2 separate regions of the Homo sapiens genome follow, and region 2 is linked to region 1. Evidence: fine-mapped expression QTL. A gene starts in region 1. The other region holds a variant in brackets. All regions are shown on one strand. Distances are between the middles of the regions.

Region 1 (4,359 bases):
TGCCCCTCACCTCACCCAGGGCTCAGAGAGATGGTGGAAGCTGTGAAGGCCTGGGCAGATGCCCACCAGGGCCTTGTAGAGGCCACAAGGGTCCCGGGGTAGGGGTGGGGTGGCCTTACCAAGAGGAGCTGGTGTGCCGGAAATTCCCCAGGTGGCCACGAACAGCAGGAGGCTTGTGAGCTGCCACATTCTGGAGGCACTGGCACCTGTCTGAGGAGGACTTCTGAGCTCCGGGCAGTGCCTACCCCCGCTGCTGCTCTGCCTGCACCCCCAGGTGGAAGCGGAATGAAAGGGCTGTCCCTGTGTGCTGGCCGTCAGGGCGGAAGCTGGGATTGAGGGTCCTTGTTCGCTAGAGACATAGCCTCAGAAGGCCTCGGCTGCCCGCTCTACGTGGGGCTGAGCTCACACTGCCTGCCTAGAAAGCAGCTCCAGAATGCAGTGGAGAGGGTGCCAGGATGTTTGTGTCCTCCCTGGGGACAGTGGGGTGGCTGCCTCTGCCGGTCTGATGACTGGGCTGAGAATATTAGCTAACGTTGATTGGACACTCATGGTGTCTTTCAAACAATTTTTACAGGATTCACAGGGCAGGCCATGAAGCCAGACTGCACGGTGCAAATTCCAGCTCCAGCACTTACTGGAGGGCAATGTTGGGCAAGATGCTTAACTGCTCCATGCCTCAGTTTCCTCATTTGTAAAATGGATGGAATAACGTGGTGTATCTGTGCCTTAAAGGGTGTTGTGAGAATTAAAGGAGTTAGTCCACATAAAGCTCTCAAAACAGGCTTTGCACATAGCTCATGCTCAGTAAACATGAGATATTATGACTTCAGTTAAGGCTCACAACCACCCAAGAGGTAGTTATTAATGCTGTCAACCCCATTTCATAGAGGGGGAAACTGAGACTCGGAGGAGTTAAGTGGTTTATTAAAAATCCAACCCTTGCTGGTCTCCGTTGATTGCACAGGGAAGTCACCAACCCAGGGGATCGATCAGATTCTGTCCCCCATCCTCCAGGAGTAGGGTCTCACACCATCAGTACACTGCAGGCACCAGACTCGGAAGACTGAGGCAAGGTCCTGGGTCTCCATGTTTACATCCATGCATTACTCGCAGAGCCAGGACTCAAGGCCAGGCCTGTGTGGTTTTAGGCCTGGAAATTCAACCCCTGCCCCAAACCACCAGGTGCTCCAAAAGGCCACAGAGATAGCCCTGGTGGCCAGAGATCAAGGAACCCTCCCCAGTGGATAGGCCACGTGGCCCTCTGCACACCCTACCGGACCCTGCTCTCCATTCTTGCCGACTCCCTCTGAGGCCACTTCTGAGATTTGTTCAAATCCGACACCCCCAAAGGTGGAAGTGGGGTGGGGAGAATGGAGGGTCCTGGGCTCCAAACTGTCTGTTGGAATGGCCCTGGGCCCTGGGGACCCTTGGCCTGGAAAGAGGGAGGCGCATGGCAAAGGGACCTGAGACTGTGGCTGCCAGGCCTGGCCTGTGGAGGGCCTTGTGTCCTTTCACCCCAAGCTCAGGCTTGTTGAGCACCCTGGCTGGAGGATTCAGCCCTCATCACCACCTAGCTCTCTTCTCCCGGGGGCAGCCCTCCCTCCACACCCCTCATAGACCTGCCTGGAGGGGGACTCACAGGGGCGGGTCGTGGAGATACTGCAAGTTCGCCGTCCTGCCGCCATGACAGCCTGGAGTTCGAGTTAATCCATAACCACAAATATTTGCTTGGCCCTCAGCACTGAGGCCTCCCTCTCCATAGACAAACAGTGGCACTAGCACTCCTGGTCCTAGCTCAGCACGGCTTGTTCTGCCCGAAGCCCACCTCTGCCCACCAAGGATGCCGTCCAGCAGGGAGGGAGGTGAGGGCAAAACCCTTGACAGATGTGGTCTCATTTTAGCCCCATAGTGGCTGGCTGAGGGAGGAACGTTGTCCCTGTTTTTCAGATGGGGACATTTTTGCCCAGAGATATTATAGTTTGCCCAAGATCAGCACAACAGGTAATATTCCATATTTCGTCAAATCTAAAATACCATTAATTATAAGACACATGTATTTATGTGCCACCATACAAGAAAAAAGACGCTGTCCCAATGACATGCCATCCCAATTTCTGATACATAAAATCATGAGAAGATGCTCCTTTTTGGGTCCCCAGTGCATAGGTGCTGGGCACTGGGCTCCACCCTCACCTCCAATTGCTCACAAATCACCCCCAATCCCCACCCCCAACACACACACACAATGGCACATAGCATCCCTCTAACCTCTATTTTTCAGGTAAGGACACTCAAGTTTTGTGTTACTCGCCCAGATTCACTGAGCTGGTAGTTGGCAGATTTAATTTGAACTCAGGTCTTGCTGCTTCCATTTGGCCCCTTTTGTGGACCAGTAAGAAAAATGAACGGGATTCCAGAAAGGCTGCAGCAATTTCCTGGCCGGGGTGCCAGAAGGGAGAAGGGCAGAAATAAAGGGTCCAGCTCAGCACCTTTGCCTGTGTCCTGCAGTCTATCAGCATTTATTAAGCGTCTTCCTGCTCCGAACCGGGCTGCACCAGAGATGCCCCCCTTTCCTCCCTGCCCTACCTGTTCCTGGGAAGACTTGCCCACGTTCCTTCTCCAAGTCTGCACCTCTAAACGGGGCATGTGACCCTGCCTCGCTGGCTTCCATTGATTGCACAGGGAAGTCACCAACCCAGGGGATTGATCAGAGGAGTAGGGTCTCACACTGTCAGTACACCATAAGTACCAGACTCGGAAGATTGAGGCCAGGTCCTGGGCATCCATGTTTACGCTTAAAGCAGAGGAAGCTGATGAGAAGGAAGATGCAGGTGTGCAGAGGGGGACTGAGGCCACGGACACCTAGAGAGTCCCAGGGAGCAGCGGAAGGAGGCCCCTGCCTCCTTATGATTGGTGGCACATCCTGGCTTCGGGTGCAGGAGGGTCCCCATGCCCTCCTAAAACCCTATTCCTCCTGAAGTTTCTTTAAATTGGCTGGAACAGCTTGTGTTGATTGTAACCAGATGCCTCCTGCTGAGGCACCACACCATGCTGGGCTGTGGTGGTACCAGGCCCTCCTAGAGGAACAGGGTAAAACTCTAACACTCTAACAAGTCAGGCCCACCTTGCCCAGGGGCAGGTACACATAGGAAATGCTTACAGAATTCAGAGGAGAGGGCAATCAGTACAAGCTGGCATAGCCAGGGGAGGCTGCCTGTAGGAGGTGACACTTCAGCTGGACATCAAAGAGCAGACAGGAGGAAAGACATCCCCCCCAACCCCACCCCAGGTTGGGAGACAGTGGGGAGACACAGAACACAAGCAGTCAGGAGGTGCTAGGAGGGGTGGAGGTGGAGAGGAGGTGGAGGGTGAGGCAATGGATTTTGAAATCGAGACTATGAGAAGTGGAGAACCAGGAGCTGTTTGTGACAGGCTGTGGCAGCTGCCTAGAAAAGCAGAGACAAGCTTCTGGGAACTCAGACAGGAAGCATGAAGACCCCATGCACAACCACAGAAGGCACCAGCTTGTATGTCCCTGTTTGCTTCAGGCGTCGCCCCCGCAAGTCTGCAGAGATCACTGCCCTCTGCTTTGCCTTCCAGGTGCAAGATGTTGTGGGTATTCTTTTGGCGCCGCTTCCCTTCCCCACCAACTTCTCGCCCTCTACTCCTCCCCACCCCAGCACAGGCAGCCGCTCCAGGGCAAGTCTATGCAGGCTCCACACACTGATTCTGACCTGCATAAATGGACTCTGCCCGGGGCACCCATGTCCAAACCAGCCCAGGTGCCCAAAGCACCGGCACCGGTACGAGCCAGGGCGGCTGCAATGCTCCCAAGTGCCCAGTGCTGGGGGTTGGGGGTGCCACGGCTTGGCAGGCTGCCCAGAGGGCGGAAGGGTCCTCTGCAGAGCTCTGCACGCCTGTCGGCCGACGGGGACTCTGCACGGCGGGCTGCGTCACGGCCGCCTCATCGGCTGGCAGCGCAGGAAACCCCGTCACCTTCTCGAGGTAGGGACAGTCCTGCCGCCAGCCGTTCCTGCGATCCCAGGGTCTCTGCAGTTACACCTGGTTCCAGCCGGGGGCGCCGCGCCGCACCGCTCCTGCGGAGGAGCCAGGCGCCCTTCACAGGCGCGGCCTCACCCGCTTTACTTGTCAGGTGTGAGTCGCCCCACGTGCACCCGAACGCGGTCAGGTCCACCCAGGAAGCCGGAGCAGGACTTTGGGCAGCGAGCTCGCTGTGAGTTAGAGAGCAGAGGGACACCTGTGGCTAAGGAATTCGCTGCATGGATGAAGACCCAAGCAAAGGAGCTAGAACCAAATGTGTGTGGGGCAAGGCCAGCCACAACTACCGGAGCAGGCGGG
Region 2 (4,389 bases), 38 kb before region 1:
TTTTCATTTATTTCAAGTACTGTTAAATTTTCTGATTTCTTCTTTCACCCATTTGTATTTAGGAGTTGTTTAATTTCCACATATTTATGAATTTCTCAAATTTCCTTCTATTATCGATTTCTAATTTCATTCCATTTTGATCACAGAACAGACTGTGTGTGATATCAGTCCTCTTAATTTTATTGAGGCTTGTTTTATGGTTTAGCATTTGATGTTTCCTGGCAAATGTTTCATGTGCTCTTCAGAAGAATGTGTGTTCTGTGATTGGGTGTTCTGCAGTGGTCTGTAGGTGTAGCTTGTTCAGCCTTCTGTTTCCTTGCTGATCTTCTGCCTAGCTGTTCCGTCCATTATTGAAAGTTGGGCACTGAAGTCTTCAACTACTTTTGTTAAGTTGTCTGTTTCTCCCTTCAGTGTTACCAGTTTTTGCTTCATGTGTTTTGGTGCTCAGTTGTTTGGTACATTATGTTTATAATGGTGTGTATTCCTGATGGATTGATTTTTTTAGTCATTATAAAGTGTCCTTTTTTGTCTTAAAGTCAACAACCGCTTATCTTAAAGTGGCGAAGTCCAATCTTTTGGCTTCCCTGGGCCGTGTTAGAAGAAGAATTGTCTTGGGCTCCATGTAAAATACAATAATGATAGCTGATGAGCTAAAAAAAAAAAAATCTCATAATGTTTTAAGAAAGTTTACAAATCTGTGTTGGGCTGCATTCATAGCCATCCTGGGCCACGGGTTGGACAAGCTTGACATAAGGGAGGGTAACATGGTGTGTGCCATTGAGAAACTTCCTGGAGAGACATGACCATGGGAACCGACCTGAGAAGTTTACACAGGCAGTGGAACACAGAAGCAGGGGTTCTGCTCCCGCACACTCCTCCAGCCCTCCGCGTGCCCCGCAGCCCACCGTGCTTCACCACCACCTGTTCTCAGGCAGCCCGTGCACTCTCTCCTGTGTGCTTTGAGTTGGTGTTCCTTGTGTCTACTGTTCTTCCCTTTCCCTACCTCGCTAACTCCTACATCTCATCTCACTAAAATAAGATGCATGTGGCCGGGTGCGGTGGTTCACGCCTGTAATCCCAGCACTTTGGGAGGCCAAGGTGGGCAGATCACAAGGTTAGGAGATCGAGACTTTCCTGGCCATCGTGGTGAAACCTTGTCTCTACTAAAATACAAAAAATTAGCCGGGCATAGTGGTGCGTGCCTGGAGTCACAGCTACTCGGGGAGGCTGAGGCAGGGGAATCGCTTGAACCCAGGAGATGGAGATTGCAGTGAGCCGGTATCACGCCACTGCACTCCAGCCTGGCGACAGAGCAAGACTCCATCTCAAAAAAAAAAAAAAAAAAAAAAAAAAAAAAAAAGATGCGCATATCGGTGCTTTCCAAAATCCAGTCATTGGCAAGCCACATTTAAGATGCTCTCCACATCTAAGCACTATTTGTGATTCAAATCAGTTTTAAAACTCATTCCTTTAGCCTCACTCTGAGCAATCATATTGGTGAAAGTTTGGTTTTCTCATTATATTTTTTTGTAATGCACATTTAGATGCATAAGTAAAAAATTAAAAATTGGTCCACATTCTACTTCAAATCATTTTGCATGTGATACATATGCCATACTTTTGACAAGACCTCTAGCCTGCCTGACGCACAGGGAGCACTGTGAAAGATCTTTTCTTGCTGTAATTAACATCTGTGTGGGTTAGCTGCAACTTACCTGCCGGGAAGCCCTTCTGGGTGACCCCGGAAGTCTCACTCCGCTCCCTCCCCTGCACTGCTTTGAACACGTCTCCAATTTAGTGTTTTCTTAGACCGCAGACGTTGTAGTTGTTCACATGTCTCTCTCTCCGTTAGACCATGAGCTCCCTGAGGGCAAAATGATGTCCTTTTCTCTTCTCCCAGCATCGATAACGGTACCTGACAAATAGTAAGCATTCAGTAAAATTTTGTTGAATGAGTTTCCATAACTGCATTGTAGTATAATTTCTCTTTCTGTGTGTGTCTTTTCTCTGATGAGACTGTTCTAGGAATTTTTATGCCACTCAGTGCCTGCTCACAGCAGGTGTCCAGTAAACTCATGCAAGAATGACTGTATGAACAGATGAACAATGAACAAATGTCAGATATGTCACTCTCAGCCCTGCAGCTGGTAGCAGTTCCCCAGAATCTCCATCTTCCGATAGTGGTCCCCACCTGTGTCATTGTTAGAGGCTGTCACTACTGGTCACGTTCCAGGGTGAACCCAGCCTGTCTTATTGCTCTGTAATCCATCTTCCTGTGGAATGTGGTAATTAGCATGTTAATGAGCTCACAAGGAAACAGTGTTGCAAGAAGAGAGGTTGTTTAGCCGGATGCAGTTGCTCATGCCTGTAATCCCAGCACTTG[T/C]GGAGGCTAAGGCAGGAGGATTGCTTGAGTCCAGGAGTTTGAGACCAGCCTAGGAAACATAGAGAGGTTGATATCTGCAAAAAAAAGTAAAAATTAGCTGAGCCTGTGGTCCCAGCTACTTGGGGGCTGAGGTGGGAGGATCACCTAAGCCTCCAGGGGTTCGAGGCTGCCAGACCCTGTCTCAAAAAAATACAATTCATTTAGGGAATCAGGACAATCCTAGGATGAAATGCAGACTGTGACAAAAGAATCCAGCCATATGAAACCAGCTCTCTGAGAAAGGGTGGGGGTGAGCCTGTGGACTTCGCACCCCTGCTTGAACTAAGTGAGCTGTGACAGGCAGTAATCCTTCCATGCCCCGCCTCAGCGGTAAGGTAGCATGTTTACCACCTGCACCACGAGGGGAAAGTTCACCCCTGGCACCCACCAATAGCGTGAAAGACTTGGGCTTGTTCCGTGAGTTACATAGTGACTGAGGAGATCCATTCCAATAATGGGGTGCACATTGTAGCAAAACCAGGCCAATACTAACAGTTAAGTGGGTAATTATCCCTTTAATTAATCCTCCCAAACCATTCCCCTTGGAAGGATTACAGCCTGTCACGCTGACTTAGTTCAAGCAAGGGTACAAAGTCCACGGATCCCTTTAAAGCATGAGCATTTCCTGTAATATGAGATTTGGTCACCCAGTGTTGTTTATTTTTTGGAGTCCAGATTACTATTTTTTTTTTTCTTTTGAGACGGAGTCTTGCTCTTGTCATTCAGGCTGGAGTGCGATGGCGTGATCTCGGCTCACTGCAACCTCCGCTCTTGGGTTCAAGCAATTCTCCTGCCTCAGCCTCCTGAGTAGCTGGGACGACAGGTGCCTGCCACCACACCCAGCTAATTTTTGTATTTTTAGTAGAGATGGGGATTCACCATGTTGGCCAGGCTGGTGTCGAACTCCTGACCTCCAGTGATCCACCTACTTCTGCCTCCCAAAGGGCTGGGATTACAGGCATGAGCCACTGCGCCCTGCCCAGATTACTATTAACGTGGAGAAAGGTAAAAGGGCGATTGTCTACCAGAAGGGTCTGTTTTCCATGAACATGGACCACTGGATCCGTATGGGGGACACGGCCAGATATGAAGGAGGGGCTGTTTCCAGAGGAGACACCTGCTGAGAATTGTCGTCTAACCCTAGTAATTATTGGAACTGTTAAACCAATTTACTAGAGATCATCCAATCTTGAGCGCCCCCCTCCTTAGGATCCAAAGTAACCTTTCTTGTTCATTGCAGGGTTCACATTTAAGGAGATGCCTGGCTGTAGGAAGCTTGTCTGGCTTAGGAGAGGGGAAGTCTTACTGTTCATAGTAATTTGGATTTAGGCCAGGTAGGGTGTTGTTTGTAGAATTCATGGGCAGCACTCTGAGTTTGTCTTTTCTAAGTTTCCAGTAAGTCCAGGCAGCTATGGCCCCTTGAATTGTCTTAGTATTAGTATCATTGCCCCTGAAGAGGACTTTGTCGGAAGCTCTCCTAAGAAACAAGCAGATGGAGTCAGGACTCCCTTAAGCTGCTCAGGGCTTGCCACACCATTGTGTTGCATTCAGCCTGTCGTCTGATAAGCCCACTTCTACATCCCCAGCTGACCAAGACCTTTGGCCTCAGCTAACATTTTCCATTGACAGTCTGCCCAAACCCTTAAGACCCTATGCTAACATAGGGTCAGCAGCCTTCCAAGCCTTAAAAATCCCCATCAACAAGGTATCTGTGGGCCAGGGTCCAAAGCCTTCGCTGGGGGTCATTCCCACCTTCCTCACTAATTGTGCAGGATGCTTTTGCAGGGACACCATTTTTCCATTCCATACTGGGGCAGCCAGCCATTGAGTTTCAGCCCTTTAGGTGGAGCTCCCTCCCCGCCAGAACACTCTAGACAGCCAGCCAGCCCCTTTGTCTTTGGTTCCTGGGTTAGGAGAAACAGGGCCACAGGGCGAGAGAGAAGATGTTTTCTCCTCCAGGCAAGAGT

Evidence for each region. PIP is the estimated chance that this variant, and not a neighbour inherited with it, causes the effect.
Region 2: its variant is the best candidate, but not a certain one, in a credible set for the expression of PROC in whole blood (INTERVAL, PIP 0.66).

The regions. Positions count from the first base shown.
Region 1 is chr2:127,415,773-127,420,131 of GRCh38, reverse strand. PROC (protein C, inactivator of coagulation factors Va and VIIIa) reads right to left here and starts at 1,705. Exons shown (of 9, transcript NM_000312.4): 1 at 1,640-1,705; 2 at 120-210. The coding sequence starts at 189. RefSeq lists enhancers at 3,542-3,601, 3,982-4,359.
Region 2 is chr2:127,453,692-127,458,080 of GRCh38, reverse strand. It overlaps LOC124907884 (a long non-coding RNA gene), which reads right to left and starts at 2,422. Exons shown (of 2, transcript XR_007087229.1): 1 at 2,192-2,422; 2 at 160-1,915. The variant T/C (reference allele first, on the strand shown) is at 2,384.